5 linked regions of the Homo sapiens genome follow. Changing the gene in region 2 together with the main gene of any one other region gives a genetic interaction. Each region holds a gene or a part of one and is shown on either strand. Other genes may lie near its edges. The genes, in order: BAD, BOK, BAK1, BCL2L12 and BNIP3L.

What was found.
Region 1: changes in BOK (region 2) and BAD together harm fitness more than expected from each alone (negative genetic interaction), as found in Homo sapiens cells (one large-scale study listed by BioGRID).
Region 3: changes in BOK (region 2) and BAK1 together harm fitness more than expected from each alone (negative genetic interaction), as found in Homo sapiens cells (one large-scale study listed by BioGRID).
Region 4: changes in BOK (region 2) and BCL2L12 together harm fitness more than expected from each alone (negative genetic interaction), as found in Homo sapiens cells (one large-scale study listed by BioGRID).
Region 5: changes in BOK (region 2) and BNIP3L together harm fitness more than expected from each alone (negative genetic interaction), as found in Homo sapiens cells (one large-scale study listed by BioGRID).

What each region holds. Positions count from the first base shown.
Region 1 is NC_000011.10:64,271,651-64,274,985, forward strand, and holds part of BAD (bcl2-associated agonist of cell death), read right to left. Parts: intron 154-3,335; coding exon 1-153. UniProt on the Homo sapiens protein: Promotes cell death. Successfully competes for the binding to Bcl-X(L), Bcl-2 and Bcl-W, thereby affecting the level of heterodimerization of these proteins with BAX. Can reverse the death repressor activity of Bcl-X(L), but not that of Bcl-2.
Region 2 is NC_000002.12:241,561,419-241,565,585, reverse strand, and holds part of BOK (bcl-2-related ovarian killer protein), read right to left. Parts: intron 3,239-4,167; coding exon 3,110-3,238; intron 1-3,109.
Region 3 is NC_000006.12:33,574,609-33,577,276, reverse strand, and holds part of BAK1 (bcl-2 homologous antagonist/killer), read left to right. Parts: intron 1-1,348; coding exon 1,349-1,484; intron 1,485-1,835; coding exon 1,836-1,979; intron 1,980-2,668. UniProt on the Homo sapiens protein: Plays a role in the mitochondrial apoptotic process. Upon arrival of cell death signals, promotes mitochondrial outer membrane (MOM) permeabilization by oligomerizing to form pores within the MOM.
Region 4 is NC_000019.10:49,668,543-49,671,951, forward strand, and holds part of BCL2L12 (bcl-2-like protein 12), read left to right. Parts: intron 1-308; coding exon 309-395; intron 396-481; coding exon 482-573; coding exon of another isoform or gene 574-622; intron 623-1,673; coding exon 1,674-1,946; intron 1,947-3,409.
Region 5 is NC_000008.11:26,396,515-26,400,681, reverse strand, and holds part of BNIP3L (BCL2/adenovirus E1B 19 kDa protein-interacting protein 3-like), read right to left. Parts: intron 1-4,167.

The sequences.
Region 1 (3,335 bases), on a different chromosome or scaffold from region 2:
GCTCGCGGCCATAGCGCTGTGCTGCCCAGAGGTTGGGGGGCGCCGAGCGCGAGCGGCCCCGAAAGGGGCTGGGCTCCTCCCCCATCCCTTCGTCGTCCTCCGTCCCCGCGGGGTAGGAGCTGTGGCGACTCCGGATCTCCACAGCCCCAGCGCCTGCAGAGGGTCAGTGGGTAGGGGGGCGACGTTAATCTCAGCTCCTCTAAGCCCCTGGCCCTGCCTGAACCCTCCCCATCAGCTCTGCAGGCCCACTCGTGGGTCTTCCAGGGGCGCATCACAGCCCACCTCTCAGAGCCCCAGTCCCTTGTATGTGAATCGAGGGGAAGCTCAGGGGCCTTTGGTGAAGATTTAGGTTAACTTCTCATTAATCCCACGAATCCTTACCGAGTGCCAATAATGGGTGAGGCCCTGTGCCTAGCACAAAATAAGGGCATAAGAAATACTAGTTACATCACAAGGTCAGGAGATCGAGACCATCCTGGCCAACATGGTGAAACCCTGTCTCTACTCAAAACACAAAAATTAGCTGGGCATAGTGGCACGTGCCTATAGTCCCAGTTACTCGGGAGGCTGAGGCAGAAGAATCGTTTGAACCCAGGAGGGAGAGGTCGCAGTGAGCCGAGATCACGCCACTGCACTCCAGCCTGGGCGACAGGCTTTTTTTCTCAAAAGAAAAAAAAAAAAAGCAAGAAGTATTATTAGTGCAAGACCTTCATGGGGCCTCCTGGCAACCCCTGGGTTGGTAGCTATTTCATAGTGTCTGTTCTACATCGGAGGAAGCCAATCCCTTGGATAGGAAAGTGTCCTGCCACAGCCGGCAGGATTGAATGCCTCCTCTGCAAGGGACCTGCAGAGCCCCTGGAGAACAAGAACTTGGCCGCTACATGTCCGCATCCCCCACAGAGCCTTCTCTGGAGACAGTGTCTGGAACTGTTGACGTTTTTAGGTACCATTGATGGTGCACTTACGTGTAGGCCGAGACATTCCCTTATTATCCTCCTAACCACCCTGGGAGGTGAGTACCAAACATGCTTAGGTGAGAAGACAGAAGCTTAGAGAGTTAAGACTTGCCCAGTTTCTGTGAAGCTGTGGAGGCCTGAGGCTGGAAGGTTCCAAAGGTTTGGTGGAATCCAGAGTCCAGTGATGATCAGCGGAGCTCTGTGTCTCTCCCCTTGTCTAGCCAGCCTTCGACTCTCTTAGCCTGTGTCCTCACCTTTATGAGGGGATAATCCTAGCCCTGACTCCCAGTGGCTGTGTGAACATCACATAAAATTAAAAAATGTGAAAGTGCTTTGTGGCTGGGCGTGATTCCTCACGCCTGTAATCCCAGCACTTTGGGAGGCTGAGGCAGGTGGATTGCTTGAGTTCAGGAGTTCGAGACCAGCCTAGGCAACATTGCAAAACCCCATCTCTATTAATTTAAAAAATTAATAAAAGAAGGCCAGACGTGGTGGCTCACGCCAGTAATCCCAGCACTTTGGGAGGCCAAGGCAGGTGGATCACCTGAGGTCAGAAGTTCGAGACCAGCCTGGCCTCAAACTCTGGTGAAACTCCGTCTCTACTAAAAATACAAAAATTAGTTAGGTGTGGTGGTTCACGCCTGTAGTCCCAGCCACTCAGGAGGCTGAAGCAGGAGAACTGCTTTAACCCAGTGGGTGGAGGTTGCAGTGAGCCGAGATTGTGCCACTGCACTCCAGCCTGGGTGGCAGAGCGAGACTCTGTCTCAAATAATAATAATAATAACAAAAGAAAAAAGAAAGTGCTTTGTAGGCTGCAAGTGCACTATGGGTTATTATTCAGAGGCCCGCCTACTATGGTCTATTTGAACTGTGCTCTGTGCCATCTCCCAACTCCTGCCAACTCCACTCCTCTACCCAGACCGATAAAGACTTAGAACCACTCCCCTGAGCAAACACTCAGAGTGCAATGACAGAGTGAGAAGCAGGTGGGGGGCTGGGCGCAGTGGCTCACGCCTGTAATCCCAGCACTTTGGGAGGCCGAGGTTGGGGAGATCACGAGGTCAGGAGTTTAAGACCAGACTGACCAAGATGGTAAAACCCCGTCTCTACTAAAAATACAAAAAAATTAGCCAGGCGCGGTGGCAGGCACCTGTAATCCCAGCTACTCGGGAGGCTGAAGCAGAAGAATCGCTTGAACCTGGGCAGCAGAGGTTACAGTGAGCCAAGATCACGCCACTGCACCCATCTCAAAAAAAAAAAAAAAAAAAAAAAAAGAGAGGCAGGTAGGGAAACATGCTGGGTGTTTATGGCAAGATATGTCTGTCAGGGAGGCTCTTTGGAGGAGGTAAATTACAGGCCAGGAACTGAAGGCGGGGGATAACCATTGGAATGTCTCTTCTCCCCTCAGAGGACCTGAGGACCTGGCCTGTGGGCCAGTGCAGGGCCTCCAGGGGTCCCAGCTAGGACACATAAATGAGACACATGACTAAGAAAGCAAGTAGGTGGCCGGGTGCGGTGGCTTACGCCTTTAATCCCAACACTTTGGGAGGCCGAGGCAGGCGCATCACGAGGTCAGGAGATCGAGACCATCCTAACACGGTGAAACCCCATCTGTACTAAAAGTACAAAAAATTAGCTGGGCATGGTGGCTGGCGCCTTAGTTCCAGCTACTCGGGAGGGTGAGGCAGGACAATGGCGTGAACCCGGGAGGCGGAGCTTGCAGTGAGCTGAGATCACGCCACTGCACTCCAGCCTGGGTGACAGAGTGAAACTCTACCTCGAGAAAAAAAAAAAAAGCAAGTAGGCGCAGTGGCTCACGCCAGTAATCCCAACACTTTGGGAGGCCAAGGCAGGTGGATCACTTGAGGCCAGGAGTTCGAGATCAGCCTGACCCAACATGGCAAAAACCCATCTCTACTAAAAATACAAAAAAAGGCCAGGTGTGGTGGCTCACGCCTGTAATCCCAGCACTTTGGGAGCCCAAGGCAGGTGGATCACGAGGTCAGGAGTTCGAGACCAGCCTGACCCACATGGTGAAACCCTGTCTCTACTAAAAACACAAAAATTAGCCAGGTGTGGTGGCGCGAGCCTGTAATCCCAGCTACTCAGGAGGCTGAGGCGGGAGAATCACTTGAACCCAGGAGGCAGAGGTTGCAGTGAGCCGAGATTGCACCACTGCACTCCAGCCTGGGTGGCAGAGTGAGACTCTGTCTCAAAAAAAAAAAGAAACTAGCCAGGCATGGTGGTGTGGGCCTGTAGTCCCAGCTACTAGGGAGGTTAAGGCACAAGAATCACTTGAACCTGGGAGGCGGAGGTTGCAGTGAGCTGAGATCTCACCATTGCACTCCAGTCTGGCAGTCTGGGAGACAGAGTGAGACT
Region 2 (4,167 bases):
GGAGGAAGACCGGGGGTCAGAGCGTGCAGGGATGGCTGGCGTGGGAGGGGCCTCAGGCAGGGAGGCAAGGATGTGTAAAGCACTTGGAGGCTGGAGGCTCGCCCTGTAGACAAAAGGGCCCAAGAGGACTGGGATGGACAAAGGTGAAGGGGGCTGGGGGTGCAACTGCCAGTGGGCCTGAGGGGCAGAAGGGGCGGCCCTGCCCTAGCTCCCTAGTCAGGTGGCTCTGGTTCAGGGAGGTTCAGAAACCCGTTGCAGGTCACGAGGCTCTTGGGCTTCAACCTGCGTGGCTCCCCTCGGGCAGGGCCGCCTCAGAGTAGCAGCAGGTGGGGGTGTGGGGGCTGCCACATGGCCAGAGCCGGGCCTGCGTGGGACAAGCCTGGGGCGCTGGGTGGGGTGGGGGATGCTGACCACAGGGGAGTGGGCTCCGGTTTTCCAGTGAAAACAAGACTTAAACTGAACTCTACACATAGCCCGGGCCACCTGGCCGGTGCCGCCCACATTCCCCGTCAGCTGTGTGCCCGCTCGTCCAGCCATCCCCTTCCCCTCAGCCCTCCCTGGCCCCCAGGTGCCCTCCCAGAACCAACCAGAGCCTTCCTAGGCACCGCCCCCACCTCAGGCCAGGCCCTGCTCAAGCAAGGCCGGGCGGGTAGGGGCATCCTGGCCCCATCCTCTCTCCCTGCCGAAGGGGGAGGCGCCCCACCTCTGGGCAGGCTGCTGCATTCTCAGAAATGACTGTTCCTTTTAAAGCCAGCCTGCAGCTCGTAAACCCAGCGGCCCCGAGACAGACACCCGGGTGGCCACCCACGCGCCGGCGTCGGCCAAGGGAGGGCTGAGAGTGGTCGTCAGCCCAGGATGCCTTCCACCCCTGGCTTCCTTCCGGGGCCCCACCCACTGCCTGCCCCGTGCCTGCCTGGGTCACCCTGGCGGCAGGAGGGGCGGGCACCAGCTTGCCAGCTCCTGCCACCATGCTTCCGCTGCCCACTGTGCCGTGAACCCTGCCCCCTGCCCACCCGGCCCCTGAGCCACACCACCTGCCCACTCCCCAGCCCCTACCCATATGCACCCCCAGCCGACTCAGGTCTGCCCCATGACACGCCTCAGCCTGGCCTGGGCCCGGCCCCCCACCCTCAGCTGCCACGTGGGGGCCTTGGAGCCAAACTGCCAATGAGGATTCATTTACGATCTCCCAAAGGAACACAGGAGCAGTGACAGAGTCCAGGCTCTGAGGCCACCCCAGGAGCGCCAGACAGGGAGTCTCGCCCGCACCCAGCTTGGTTCCGCCTCCTGACCCCACACCACAGCCTGAGGTCACTGCCCCTCCCCAGGTGTGGTCTGAGGCACTCCAGCACATGCTGTGGCAACAAGACAAGCCCGGAGGCAGGACCAGACCCCGCCTGGACTCCCATCCCTGGACTCAGCCTTCCCGCTCCAGCAGCCTGCCAGGTCGCCGCTGCATCCCAGCCACAGTAACTTCTGTCCAGGGAGGTCAGCAGTGAGCAAGCGTGGCACTGGAGAGGCCGGATTCTGTCAGAAAATGCTCGCAGCCCCCGCCGCCTTGGCCTCCAGCCGAGGGTGTCAGCCCCGCTCTGTCCCCATCTGGCTGGCCCACCAGGGGTCGGAGGAGACGTCTGGGAGAGGAGCTGGAGGACACCCCACAAAGGTGGGGTCTGCCTGAGCGAGAGGCAGTGGTCCTCACACTCCTGGCCTCTTCCCCTTGCCCTCCGGTGGGTGGAGGTCCCGAGGCCATCTGAAGACCCCTGGCTCTGAGGGTCACCCCGTGGCGTGGGATGCATCTCCCACAGCGAGGGTGTGGCTTCCTCTGGCGCCTGATGCCTGGCTCCTGCTGCTGTCAGGACTGCCTGGAGACAAGGCAGCTGAGGCCACAGAGATGACAGCAGGCCACAGTCACACAGCTGACTGGCCACGGACCCACACCAGCTCCCAGACAAGGGTGTGCAAGGCCTCCCTGCTGTCAGGGGTCTTCCAAAAAACTGCCCCAGGGGAACAGCATGCCCCTCCTCCAAGCTTCAGGGAATCCTGCGCACCCCGGGGTTCACTGGCCCAGAGCTGTGCCCAGCACCTGGACAGCACTTGGAAAACAGCTGAGGAATGTGCCAATCAGGGAGGTGCCACATCAGGGCCGGCGCACCACTCACCCCAACAGCAGCACCCAGCGCCTGCCACACCCAGGGGCAGCTCATAGCACGGGGTGCCAGGACAGGACCCAAGGTCACAGAGGTCAAAGGCAGGGGGCTGAGGTCTGCAGGGCCAGACCTGATGACATGGGGCAAGCGGACAGAAGCCACACTGGGCAAATCCAGGCCAAGGCAGCTGGACAAGTGGACAGCGGGCACCGAGTAGGGGAGACAAGCCCTAAGCCTCCCGTGGGCCTAGAAGCATGTGGACAGCCGGGAGCAGCAGGAGCAGGGAGGCAGGGCCAGGAGATGCCTCTCCAGGGCAGAGATGGGAGCGCACAGGAGGGTCACAGGTGAGGCAGGCACAGCCAGGTGAGATGCGCTGCTGTTCTCCGGATGCCCTCCGGGAGCCAGTCTGCTTGGACCCCCATGCTCTCCCCTCTCCTGGACGCTGGAGCCCTGAGGCTCGCTTCTGACCATCAGAATCCAGCAGAGTTACCCGTGACTTCTGAGGGTATATCCTAACAGCCTGGCAGCATCTACTCGGGAGCTGTCTGGGAAACCTGCTCCTTGCCACTCCTCCTTGGGACACAGCACCATGCTGTGAGAAGCCCAAGCCCCGCTCGGGGGCCCCTGCAGGAAACCAGGCAGCCCTAGGACGTGCCACCCCACAGGACTGCAGGTCACGCGGCCCCACGGATGCTGGACCACAACTACAACCAATCAAGAAGCCTGTGCCAGCTGCTCAGCATGCCCACCAGCCTGCAGAACCACAAGAGACCCTGAATGCTGTGGTTTGAGCCCACGCTGGTGGCTGGGCAGCTCCTGACACCTGCAGCAGTGAGATGGCACCGGTGGGCACTGGGCAGCGCCAGGATGGGTGGGGGCCAGCTCGTGGGGTCCCTGTGAGCCTGAGCCACAGACCCTGGATCCCTCCCTGAGGTCCCATGGGACGGGCAGGCTGGGCATACCTGCAGAGAAGATGTGGCCAGCCACGGCCAGGAACGCATCGGTCACCACAGGCTCAGACTGCAGGGAGATGTGCAGCTGACGCGCCACGTTGCGGTAGACGCTGGGCCGGATCATCTCCAGCTCATCGCCTGTGTGGTCACAAGAGCAGGTGAGAGGCAGCCCACGTCCCAGCTTCCTGGGACACGACTGGCTTGGGGCACACCCTGCACCTGACCCCCACCTGACCATGCTTGAATTCCAGCCTGTTCCTCACTTGTCTGATTCCCACCTCCACTTGACCCCATCTGACCTCCCTTGGGCCATCCCCCAACCTTGGCCCCTAGGGACCAGAAGACCAAGGAAGTACTGAAGGCGCCCCCAGTCCCGCCCCTCTGACGAGCCAGCCCCTAAGCCTAGCCGGCCAAGCCGGTGGGGCGGGAATCCTGCGAGAGCGTGGGCCGTGCCTGCTGGTGACTCACAGCCGACAGGCAGCCGAGCTGCCCAGAGCAGGAGGGACCAGGCAGACGGCCAGACCCCGACGTGGGGAGGGGCTGGGCAGAGAAAGCACTGGGGTGAGAGCAGGGGAGCCCGACGTGGGGAGGGGCTGGGCAGAGAAAGCATTGGGGTGAGAGCAGGGGACAGCCCGAGAGCCCGGCTCAGGCCCTAGCATGGCTCAGGGACCACTCAGATGCAGAGGCTGAGCCGCTGTCCTGGGCCACCCGCACTGCCACGCTCCCACCTGGGCTGGCTGGGCCGCTGTCCTGGGCCACCCGCACTGCCACGCTCCCACCTGGGCTGGCTGGGCCCCTGTCCTGGGCCACCCGCACTGCCACGCTCCCACCTGGGCTGGCTGGGCCGCTGTCCTGGGCCACCCGCACTGCCACGCTCCCACCTGGGCTGGCTGGGCCCCTGTCCTGGGCCACCCGCACTGCCACGCTCCCACCTGGGCTGGCTGGGCCGCTGTCCTGGGCCACCCGCACTGCCACGCTCCCACCTGGGCTGGCTGGGCCCCTGTCCTGGGCCACCCGCACTGCCACGCTCCCACCTGGGCTGGCTGGGCCGCTGTCCTGGGCCACCC
Region 3 (2,668 bases), on a different chromosome or scaffold from region 2:
AGAGGGCTGGGTCACGGGCGAGGGAGGCAGGAATTAGAGTGGGGCCTGGCTGCTGTATCCCTCCAGCGGGAGAAATAAGGAAGTAAGCTGGCCAATCACCCAGTCAGGTCTGCTCAACAGGGAACGCAATTATTGTGACTTGGGGAGGAAGTAAGATGGCTGCCCTCCTTCCCTCTTCCCAGGGGATAGCCAGGGAAGCCCCAGCTCACACCTCACGGCGGGCTGTTCCCTGGACTTGGGAATCAGGTCCCAGGTCTGTCACTATCTCCCTGTGTGACTTTTCTGGGCCGCAGCTACAAATTCAGATTTTGTTTCCCACATTTCCCTGCACGCAAAGGGCTGCGGAGCTGAGATGTACTAATGTAGACTCAGGACCCCAAATGCCCGGGACTGTCCCGGTTCCCCGGCTTGTTCTGGCTGTATGACCTTGCACACGTTACTCAGACACCCTGTGCCATTTTCCCCCTGCCAGCTGGGGATTGCCTGCTCCCAGGGCTACTGTGAGGACTCAATGCAAGTGCCGGAACAACTCTCCACACAGCATAAGCTCTAGGGGCGGCTAAGGTGCTGAAGTAGGGATATTTCTTTTCTTTTTTTTTTTTTTGTTTTTTTTGTTGTTGTTGTTTTGTTTTGTTTTGTTTTTTGAGATGGAGTCTCGCTCTATTGCCCAGGCTGGAGTGCAGTGGCGTGATCTAGGCTCACTGCAAGCTCCAACTCCCGGGTTCACGCCATTCTCCTGCCTCAGCCTCCCGAGTAGCTGGGACTACAGGCGCCTCCCACCACGCCTGGCTAATTTTTTGTATTTTGTTTAGTAGAGACGGGGTTTCACCATGTTAGCCAGGATGGTCTCAATCTCCTGACCTCGTGATCCGCCCGCCTTGGCCTCCCAAAGTGCTGGGATTACAGGCATGAGCCACCACACCCGGCCATTTTTTTTTTTTTTTTGAGACAGAGTTTCGCTCTTGTTGCCTAGGCTGGAGTGCAGTGGCACGATCTCCGCTCACCGCAACCTCCGCCTCCCGGGGTCAAGTAATTCTCCTGCCTCAGCCTCTTCTTGAGTAGGTGGGATTACAGGCATGTGCCACCACACCCGGCTAATTTTGTATTTTTAGTAGAGACAGAGTTTCTCCATGTTGGTCAGGCTGGTCTTGAACTCCCGACCTCAGGTGATCTGCCCACCTCGGCCTCCCAAAGTGCTGGGATTATAGGCGTGAGCCACCGCACCTGGTTGGGATATTTCTTTCCATGGGTGAGGACAGCTATGGCCTTAGGAAGAGTGAATCCCCTATAAGGCATGGGGCTGCCAGGGTTCGGCCCTCTCTCCCTGACTCCCAGCTTTGATCCTCAGAGGAGCAGGTAGCCCAGGACACAGAGGAGGTTTTCCGCAGCTACGTTTTTTACCGCCATCAGCAGGAACAGGAGGCTGAAGGGGTGGCTGCCCCTGCCGACCCAGAGATGGTCACCTTACCTCTGCAACCTAGCAGGTGAGCTACAACCGCTGGGCCCACAAGGACATCTTCAGGGAGGCAGTAGCTCGCATGGGTCTCTGTGCAGGTCCTGGGAGCTGGGGAGGCCTCGGGGGTCTTGCCCTTCTCTCATGGTTGCTCCTCTTTTATGTTGGGCTCCCACCCCCATCCAGGACCTTGTATCCTTTTTAGCCCATGCCTGCCCCTTCTCCTGGAGCCCAGCACTCATGTCTTAGAACACTGTCAGGGACCTCCAAGAAGGGATGCACAGGGCCATGGACAGCTCAGGCAGAACCCCTCTGCCATGAGCCAGGGCCTGGTCCCGACTGCCTGGTTACTGGCTCACCTGCATGCCTCCTGCTCCTACAGCACCATGGGGCAGGTGGGACGGCAGCTCGCCATCATCGGGGACGACATCAACCGACGCTATGACTCAGAGTTCCAGACCATGTTGCAGCACCTGCAGCCCACGGCAGAGAATGCCTATGAGTACTTCACCAAGATTGCCACCAGGTACCCCAGCCACCTCCCTGCCAGCTCCAGTCACTCCTCTGTCATGTCACAACCATACCATACCCTGCCTGCATGATGCTCTCCTGGCATGGGGAGAAGCCTTCTGTCAGTGTCCAATGTCTGCTGTGAACTCACATGTGGTCTCGGCCCCCTATTTTTCTCTTTCGGGGTCCCAGACTTGTATTTTGGGCATTAGCTCACAGCTCTTTTGAGCTCTGACTCCAAGGTCTTGACTGGTTAGATCAGGACTCTAGAGGGGGCCTGAGGTGGGGACGTCCCCCACAGCTCCCCAGCCCAGCTGGGACATAGCTGTCCTTCATAGTTCCAATTTGAAACCACATATCACACTGAAGATGGTGAGGGTGCTAACCTCTGCCAGGTCCTAGAAATGGCTCCTACTTGCTATAATCTGGCATCCAAGTGGTTAAAGACACCGAATATTTGGGTGCAAATCCAAGCTTTGCCACTTACTGCCTTCGTGAAGCTTCCTAGCCCTTAGTCTCCTGGTTTGTAAAATAGGGAAAATATGCTTAGATTAGTGTCCACCTTACAAAGTGTTAGCCATTGCTACCACCAGAGTTAGGGAAGTCAGTGTCGGAGTAGATTTGAAACTGGAGGTGAAGGTAGGAGTAAGTGATAGATTTTAGAATTAGTGCTCAGAGCTGAAATATCCAGTCCGTGAACTTAGA
Region 4 (3,409 bases), on a different chromosome or scaffold from region 2:
CCTGTAATCCTAGCACTTTGGGAGGCTGAGGTGGGTGGATTGCCTGAGGTCAGCCTGGGCAACACGGTGAAACCCCATTTCTACTAAAATACAAAAAATTAGCCAGGTATGGCGGCGTGCGCCTGTAGTCCCAGCTACTCATGAGGCTGAGGCAGGAGAATTGCGAGACTCCGTTTCCCAAAATCAATACATAAATAAATAATAAATAAAATGGGAATCATTGCCACCTGCCAAGGTAGTTGGGGGAAGGAGAGAATCCGTAAGTTTCCAATGTCCTGGAAACCTGTCATTAACTCTTTTCACCCCAGGCCCAGCTACTCCAGACTTCTATGCTTTGGTGGCCCAGCGGCTGGAACAGCTGGTCCAAGAGCAGCTGAAATCTCCGCCCAGCCCAGGTGAGGCACAGAGGAGCCCCAGAGAAGGATGGCGGTGGGAGGATAGTCAGGGTTCTGCCCCCAGCCAAATTCTCTTCTGCCTCCAGAATTACAGGGTCCCCCATCGACAGAGAAGGAAGCCATACTGCGGAGGCTGGTGGCCCTGCTGGAGGAGGAGGCAGAAGTCATTAACCAGAAGGTGATGGGCATCTGTCCCACTCCTTGGCAAGGACAGGAGTTGCGGAATGGTGGGGCACTGGGATCAGAAGCTGGATCTGTATTTTCTTTGGATGGTCAGGTGGAAAGAGGCTGGGACAAGGTTTCAATGAAGGGTTGAGGCCGGGTGTGGTGGCTCACGCCTGTAATCCCAGCACTTTGGGAGGCCGAGTTGGGTGGATGACTTGAGGTCAGGAGTTCGAGACCAGCCTGGCCAACATGGTGAAACCCCATCTCTACTAAAAATACAAAAATCGGACAGGTGTGGTGGTGCGCTTCTGTAATCCCAGCTACTCAGAAGGCTGAGGCAGGAGAATCGCTTGAGCCCAGGAGGTGGAGGTTGCAGTGAGCCAAGATTGCGCCACTGCACTCCAGCCTGGGTGACAGAGTGAGACTCTGTCTTTAAAAAAAAAAAAAAAAAAGAATAGTTGAATGACAGGGGTATGGTTAGGGTAGTACTGTACCGTAAATTAGTTGTTTTAATTGATTGTTTAGAGGGGCATGGCCTAAATGCAGAGGGTGTGGCCATCAGAAACATTATCCACAAGAGACTGGCCAAGCTGGGGAAGTAAGTGAATGAATGTGGGGGTGGGGGGAGTGGCTAAAATCTTACTGAGCATAGAAGGGACCTGGCTTAGAATGTAGGGGAAAATGTACTACCAGAGGAGGTGTGGCTTGTGGCTGTGTCCTGGAATCTGATTGGCTTCGGAGCTTGGACAAGGTACATCGTCCTTTAATATTAATTGAATGGTAGAGGGCAAGATTGTTGTAGACACTAGGTTGGCCCCTGGGAAAGGTCACCAGGGGCATGGCTAGATTAACTCAGTTACAGTAGAGATTGGCCCTGATTGGCTGTTGAGGCAAGGGCCTGGCATGGCTTAGGGACTCACGTTCCAGGCCACTATCCCGGGGGTAGTTTGGCAGAGACCCTGGAGTCTGGCTTGATTGGCTAATATGGATGAGGGGTGGCCTAGAACCTTAGCATCTAGAACGATCCTGAACCGGGAAGCCACGCCTCCCGGCCCTCTATTGGCTGGCCCCGGGGGCGCTGCTGACGCGGACCCTGCCTCTTCCACCCTACAGCTGGCCTCGGACCCCGCCCTGCGCAGCAAGCTGGTCCGCCTGTCCTCCGACTCTTTCGCCCGCCTGGTGGAGCTGTTCTGTAGCCGGGATGACAGCTCTCGCCCAAGCCGAGCATGCCCCGGGCCCCCGCCTCCTTCCCCGGAGCCCCTGGCCCGCCTGGCCCTAGCCATGGAGCTGAGCCGGCGCGTGGCCGGGCTGGGGGGCACCCTGGCCGGACTCAGCGTGGAGCACGTGCACAGCTTCACGCCCTGGATCCAGGCCCACGGGGGCTGGGTGAGCCGCTGAAGCCTCTCTCTCCGGGCCTCACTTTACCTAACTGTCATGTGATAGAGGAGGGGCGGGGACTTCTTAGGTTCCTCTCAGACCTCAGGTATTCTCCCAGCTCCACTGCGTTCGTTCTGTTGAGCCCTTGCTGTATGCCAGGACTGCAGCGATGAGTGCAGACACTATGCCTGGCGTCAACGACTGGGTACGCTAATACTGTGAGCGTGAAACCAGTGACTGAGGTTACTCAGGGAGAGGCCGGACGGGGTAGCTCATGCCTGTAATCCCAGCACTTTTGGAGGCCAAGGCAGGAGAATTATTTGAGGCCAGGAGTTCAAGACCAGCCTGGACAACATAGTAAGACCCCATCTCTACAAAAATTGAAAATAACTAGCCAGGGTCGGGTGCGGTGGCTCACACCTGTAATCCCAGCACTTTGGGAGGCCGAGGCAGGTGGATCACCTGAGGTCAGGAGTTTGAGACCAGCTGGCCAACGTGGTGAAACCCTGTGTCTACTAAAAAAAATACATAAATTAGCCGGGCGCGGTGGCAGGTGCCTGTAATCCCAGCTACCGAGGAGACTGAGGCATGAGAATCGCTTGAACCTGGGAGGCAGAGATTGCAGTGAGCTGAGATCATGCCACTGCACTCCAGCCTGGGCGACAGAGTGAGACTGTGTCTCAACAAAATAATATAATAAAAACCTGGTGCGGTGGCTCACACCTGTAATCCCAGCACTTTGGGAGACTGAGGTGGGTGGATCACTTGAGGTCAGGAGTTTGAGACCAGCCTGACCATGGTGACATTCAGTCTCTACTAAAAATACAAAATTAGCCCGGCATGCCTGTAATCCCAGCTAGGGAGGCTGAGGCAAGAGAATTGCTTGAACCTGGGAGGCAGAGGTTGTAGTGAGCCGAGATTGCACCACTGCACTCCAGCCTGGGCAACAAGAGCGGGGCTCTGTCTCAAAAAATAAATAAATAAAAATTTTTAAAATTAATAATAATTAGCAAAGCATGGTAGCTCACACGTTTACTCCCAGCTACTCAGGAGGCAGAGGAGCCGGGAGGATCACTTGAGCCCAGGAGTTCAAGGCTGTGGTGAGCTATGATTGCGCCACTGTACTCCAGTGTGGGTGACAGAGTGGGACCCTGTCTCAAAAAATAAAATAGTGAGAGTAGTAGTGCTACCTCAAAGGGTCGCTCTGAGGGTTAAAATGGGGTCAATGTGGTAAGCCCTCTGTGCACTGCCTGGCATGCAGGCATTTTGTTGGTGAGGTTATATGGCTACCTGCTGCCTTTCCAACAGTGCCTGCCAGGATGCCCTCCCGGGGAACCCCCTGCCTCCGTCCTGCTCCTTCTGGTGGGCTCTGGTTTCACCCCCAACGAGGCCTTCCCAGGTCCCCATTGACAATCACAGCCACCTGCACACCCTCCCACCGCCCTCCTTCCCCCTTCCTGCTTTACTTTTCC
Region 5 (4,167 bases), on a different chromosome or scaffold from region 2:
TTAGCCCTTTGTCAGATGAGTAGGTTGCGAAAATTTTCTCCCATGTTGTAGGTTGCCTGTTCACTCTGATGGTAGTTTCTTTTGCTGTGTAGAAGCTCTTTAGTTTAATTAGATCCCATTTGTCAATTTTGGCTTTGGTTGCCATTGCTTTTGGTGTTTTGGACATGAAGTCCTTGCCCACGCCTATGTCCTGAATGGTAATGCCTAGGTTTTCTTCTAGGGTTTTTATGGTTTTAGGTCTAACGTTTAAATCTTTAATCCATCTTGAATTGATTTTTGTATAAGGTGTAAGGAAGGGATCCAGTTTCAGCTTTCTACATATGGCTAGCCAGTTTTCCCAGCACCATTTATTAAATAGGGAATCCTTTCCCCATTGCTTGTTTTTCTCAGGTTTGTCAAAGATCAGATAGTTGTAGGTAAGCGGCGTTATTTCTGAGGGCTCTGTTCTGTTCCATTGATCTATATCTATGTTTTGGTACCAGTACCATGCTGTTTTGGTTACTGTAGCCTTGTGGTATAGTTTGAAGTCAGGTAGTGTGATGCCTCCAGCTTTGTTCTTTTGGCTTAGGATTGACTTGGCGATGCAGGCTCTTTTTTGGTTCCATATGAACTTTAAAGTAGTTTTTTCCAATTCTGTGAAGAAAGTCATTGGTAGCTTGATGGGGATGGCACTGAATCTGTAAATTATCTTGGGCAGTATGGCCATTTTCACGATATTGATTCTTCCTACCCATGAGCATGGAATGTTCTTCCATTTCTTTGTATCCTCTTTTATTTCCTTGAGCAGTGGTTTGTAGTTCTCCTTGAAGAGGTCCTTCACATCCCTTGTAAGTTGGATTCCTAGGTATTTTATTCTCTTTGAAGCAATTGTGAATGGGAGTTCACTCATGATTTGGCTGTTTGTCTCTTGTTGGTGTATAGGAATGCTTGTGATTTTTGTACATTGATTTTGTATCCTGAGACTTTGCTGAAGTTGCTTATCAGCTTAAGGAGATTTTGGGCTGAGAAAATGGGGTTTTCTAGATAAACAATCATGTCATCTGCAAACAGGGACAATTTGACTTCCTCTTTTCCTAATTGAATACCCTTTATTTCCTTCTCCTGCCTGATTGCCCTGGCCAGAACTTCCAACACTATGTTGAATAGGAGCGGTGAGAGAGGGCATCCCTGTCTTGTGCCAGTTTTCAAAGGGAATGCTTCCAGTTTTTGCCCATTCAGTATGATATTGGCTGTGGGTTTGTCATAGATAGCTCTTATTATTTTGAAATACGTCCCATCAATACCTAATTTATTGAGAGTTTTTAGCATGAAGGGTTGTTGAATTTTGTCAAAGGCTTTTTCTGCATCTATTGAGATAATCATGTGGTTTTTGTCTTTGGCTCTGTTTATATGCTGGATTACATTTATTGATTTGTGTATATTGAACCAGCCTTGCATCCCAGGGATGAAGCCCACTTGATCATGGTGGATAAGCTTTTTGATGTGCTGCTGGATTCGGTTTGCCAGTATTTTATTGAGGATTTTTGCATCAATGTTCATCAAGGATATTGGTCTAAAATTCTCTTTTTTGGTTGTGTCTCTGCCCGGCTTTGGTATCAGAATGATGCTGGCCTCATAAAATGAGTTACAGAGGATTCCCTCTTTTTCTATTGATTGGAATAGTTTCAGAAGGAATGGTACCAGTTCCTCCTTGTACCTCTGGTAGAATTCGGCTGTGAATCCATCTGGTCCTGGACTCTTCTTGGTTGGTAAACTATTGATTATTGCCACAATTTCAGCTCCTGTTATTGGTCTATTCAGAGATTCAACTTCTTCCTGGTTTAGTCTTGGGAGAGTGTATGTGTCGAGGAATGTATCCATTTCTTCCAGATTTTCTAGTTTATTTGCGTAGAGGTGTTTGTAGTATCATTTTTTGTCTATTTGATTCTTCTCTCTTTTTTTCTTTATTAGTCTTGCTAGCGGTCTATCAATTTTGTTGATCCTTTCAAAAAACCAGCTCCTGGATTCATTGATTTTTTGAAGGGTTTTTTGTGTCTCTATTTCCTTCAGTTCTGCTCTGATTTTAGTTATTTCTTGCCTTCTGCTAGCTTTTGAATGTGTTTGCTCTTGCTTTTCTAGTTCTTTTAATTGTGATGCTAGGGTGTCAATTTTGGATCTTTCCTGCTTTCTCTTGTGGGCATTTAGTGCTATAAATTTCCCTCTACACACTGCTTTGAATGCGTCCCAGAGATTCTGGTATGTTGTGTCTTTGTTCTCGTTGGTTTCAAAGAACATCTTTATTTCTGCCTTCATTTCGTTATGTACCCAGTAGTCATTCAGGAGCAGGTTGTTCAGTTTCCATGTAGTTGAGCGGCTTTGAGTGAGATTCTTAATCCTGAGTTCTAGTTTGATTGCACTGTGGTCTGAGAGATAGTTTGTTATAATTTCTGTTCTTTTACATTTGCTGAGGAGAGCTTTACTTCCAACTATGTGGTCAATTTTGGAATAGGTGTGGTGTGGTGCTGAAAAAAATGTATATTCTGTTGATTTGGGGTGGAGAGTTCTGTAGACGTCTATTAGGTCTGCTTGGTGCAGAGCTGAGTTCAATTCCTGGGTATCCTTGTTGACTTTCTGTCTTGTTGATCTGTCTAATATTGACAGTGGGGTGTTAAAGTCTCCCATTATTAATGTGTGGGAGTCTAAGTCTCTTTGTAGGTCACTCAGGACTTGCTTTATGAATCTGGGTGCTCCTGTATTGGGTGCATATATATTTAGGATAGTTAGCTCCTCTTGTTGAATTGATCCCTTTACCATTATGTAATGGCCTTCTTTGTCTCTTTTGATCTTTGTTGGTTTAAAGTCTGTTTTATCAGAGACTAGGATTGCAACCCCTGCCTTTTTTTGTTTTCCATTTGCTTGGTAGATCTTCCTCCATCCTTTTATTTTGAGCCTATGTGTGTCTCTGCACGTGAGATGGGTTTCCTGAATACAGCACACTGATGGGTCTTGACTCTTTATCCAATTTGCCAGTCTGTGTCTTTTAATTGCAGAATTTAGTCCACTTACATTTAAAGTTAATATTGTTATGTGTGAATTTGATCCTGTCATTATGATGTTAGCTGGTGATTTTGCTCGTTAGTTGATGCAGTTTCTTCCTAGTCTCGATGGTCTTTACATTTTGGCATGATTTTGCAGCAGCTGGTACCGGTTGTTCCTTTCCATGTTTAGCGCTTCCTTCAGGAGCTCTTTTAGGGCAGGCCTGGTGGTGACAAAATCGGTCAGCATTTGCTTGTCTGTAAAGTATTTTATTTCTCCTTCACTTATGAAGCTTAGTTTGGCTGGATATGAAATTCTGGGTTGAAAATTCTTTTCTTTAAGAATGTTGAATATTGGCCCCCACTCTCTTCTGGCTTGTAGGGTTTCTGCCAAGAGATCCGCTGTTAGTCTGATGGGCTTCCCTTTGAGGGTAACCCGACCTTTCTCTCTGGCTGCCCTTAACATTTTTTCCTTCATTTCAACTTTGGTGAATCTGACAATTATGTGTCTTGGAGTTGCTCTTCTCGAGGAGTATCTTTGTGGCGTTCTCTGTATTTCCTGAATCTGAACGTTGGCCTGCCTTGCTAGATTGGGGAAGTTCTCCTGGATAATATCCTGCAGAGTGTTTTCCAACTTGGTTCCATTCTCCGCATCACTTTCAGGTACACCAATCAGACGTAGATTTGGTCTTTTCACATAGTCCCATATTTCTTGGAGGCTTTGCTCATTTCTTTTTATTCTTTTTTCTCTAAACTTCCCTTCTTGCTTCATTTCATTCATTTCATCTTCCATTGCTGATACCCTTTCTTCCAGTTGATCGCATCGGCTCCTGAGGCTTCTGCATTCTTCACGTAGTTCTCGAGCCTTGGTTTTCAGCTCCATCAGCTCCTTTAAGCACTTCTCTGTATTGGTTATTCTAGTTATACATTCTTCTAAATTTTTTTCAGTTTTCAACTTCTTTGCCTTTGGTTTGAATGTCCTCCCGTAGCTCACTCTAATTTGATCGTCTGAAGCCTTCTTCTCTCAGCTCGTCAAAATCATTCTCCATCCAGCTTTGTTCCGTTGCTGGTGAGGAACTGCGTTCCTTTGGAGGAGGAGAGGCGCTCTGTGTTTTAGAGTTTCCAGTTTTTCTGTTCTGTTTTTTCCCCATCT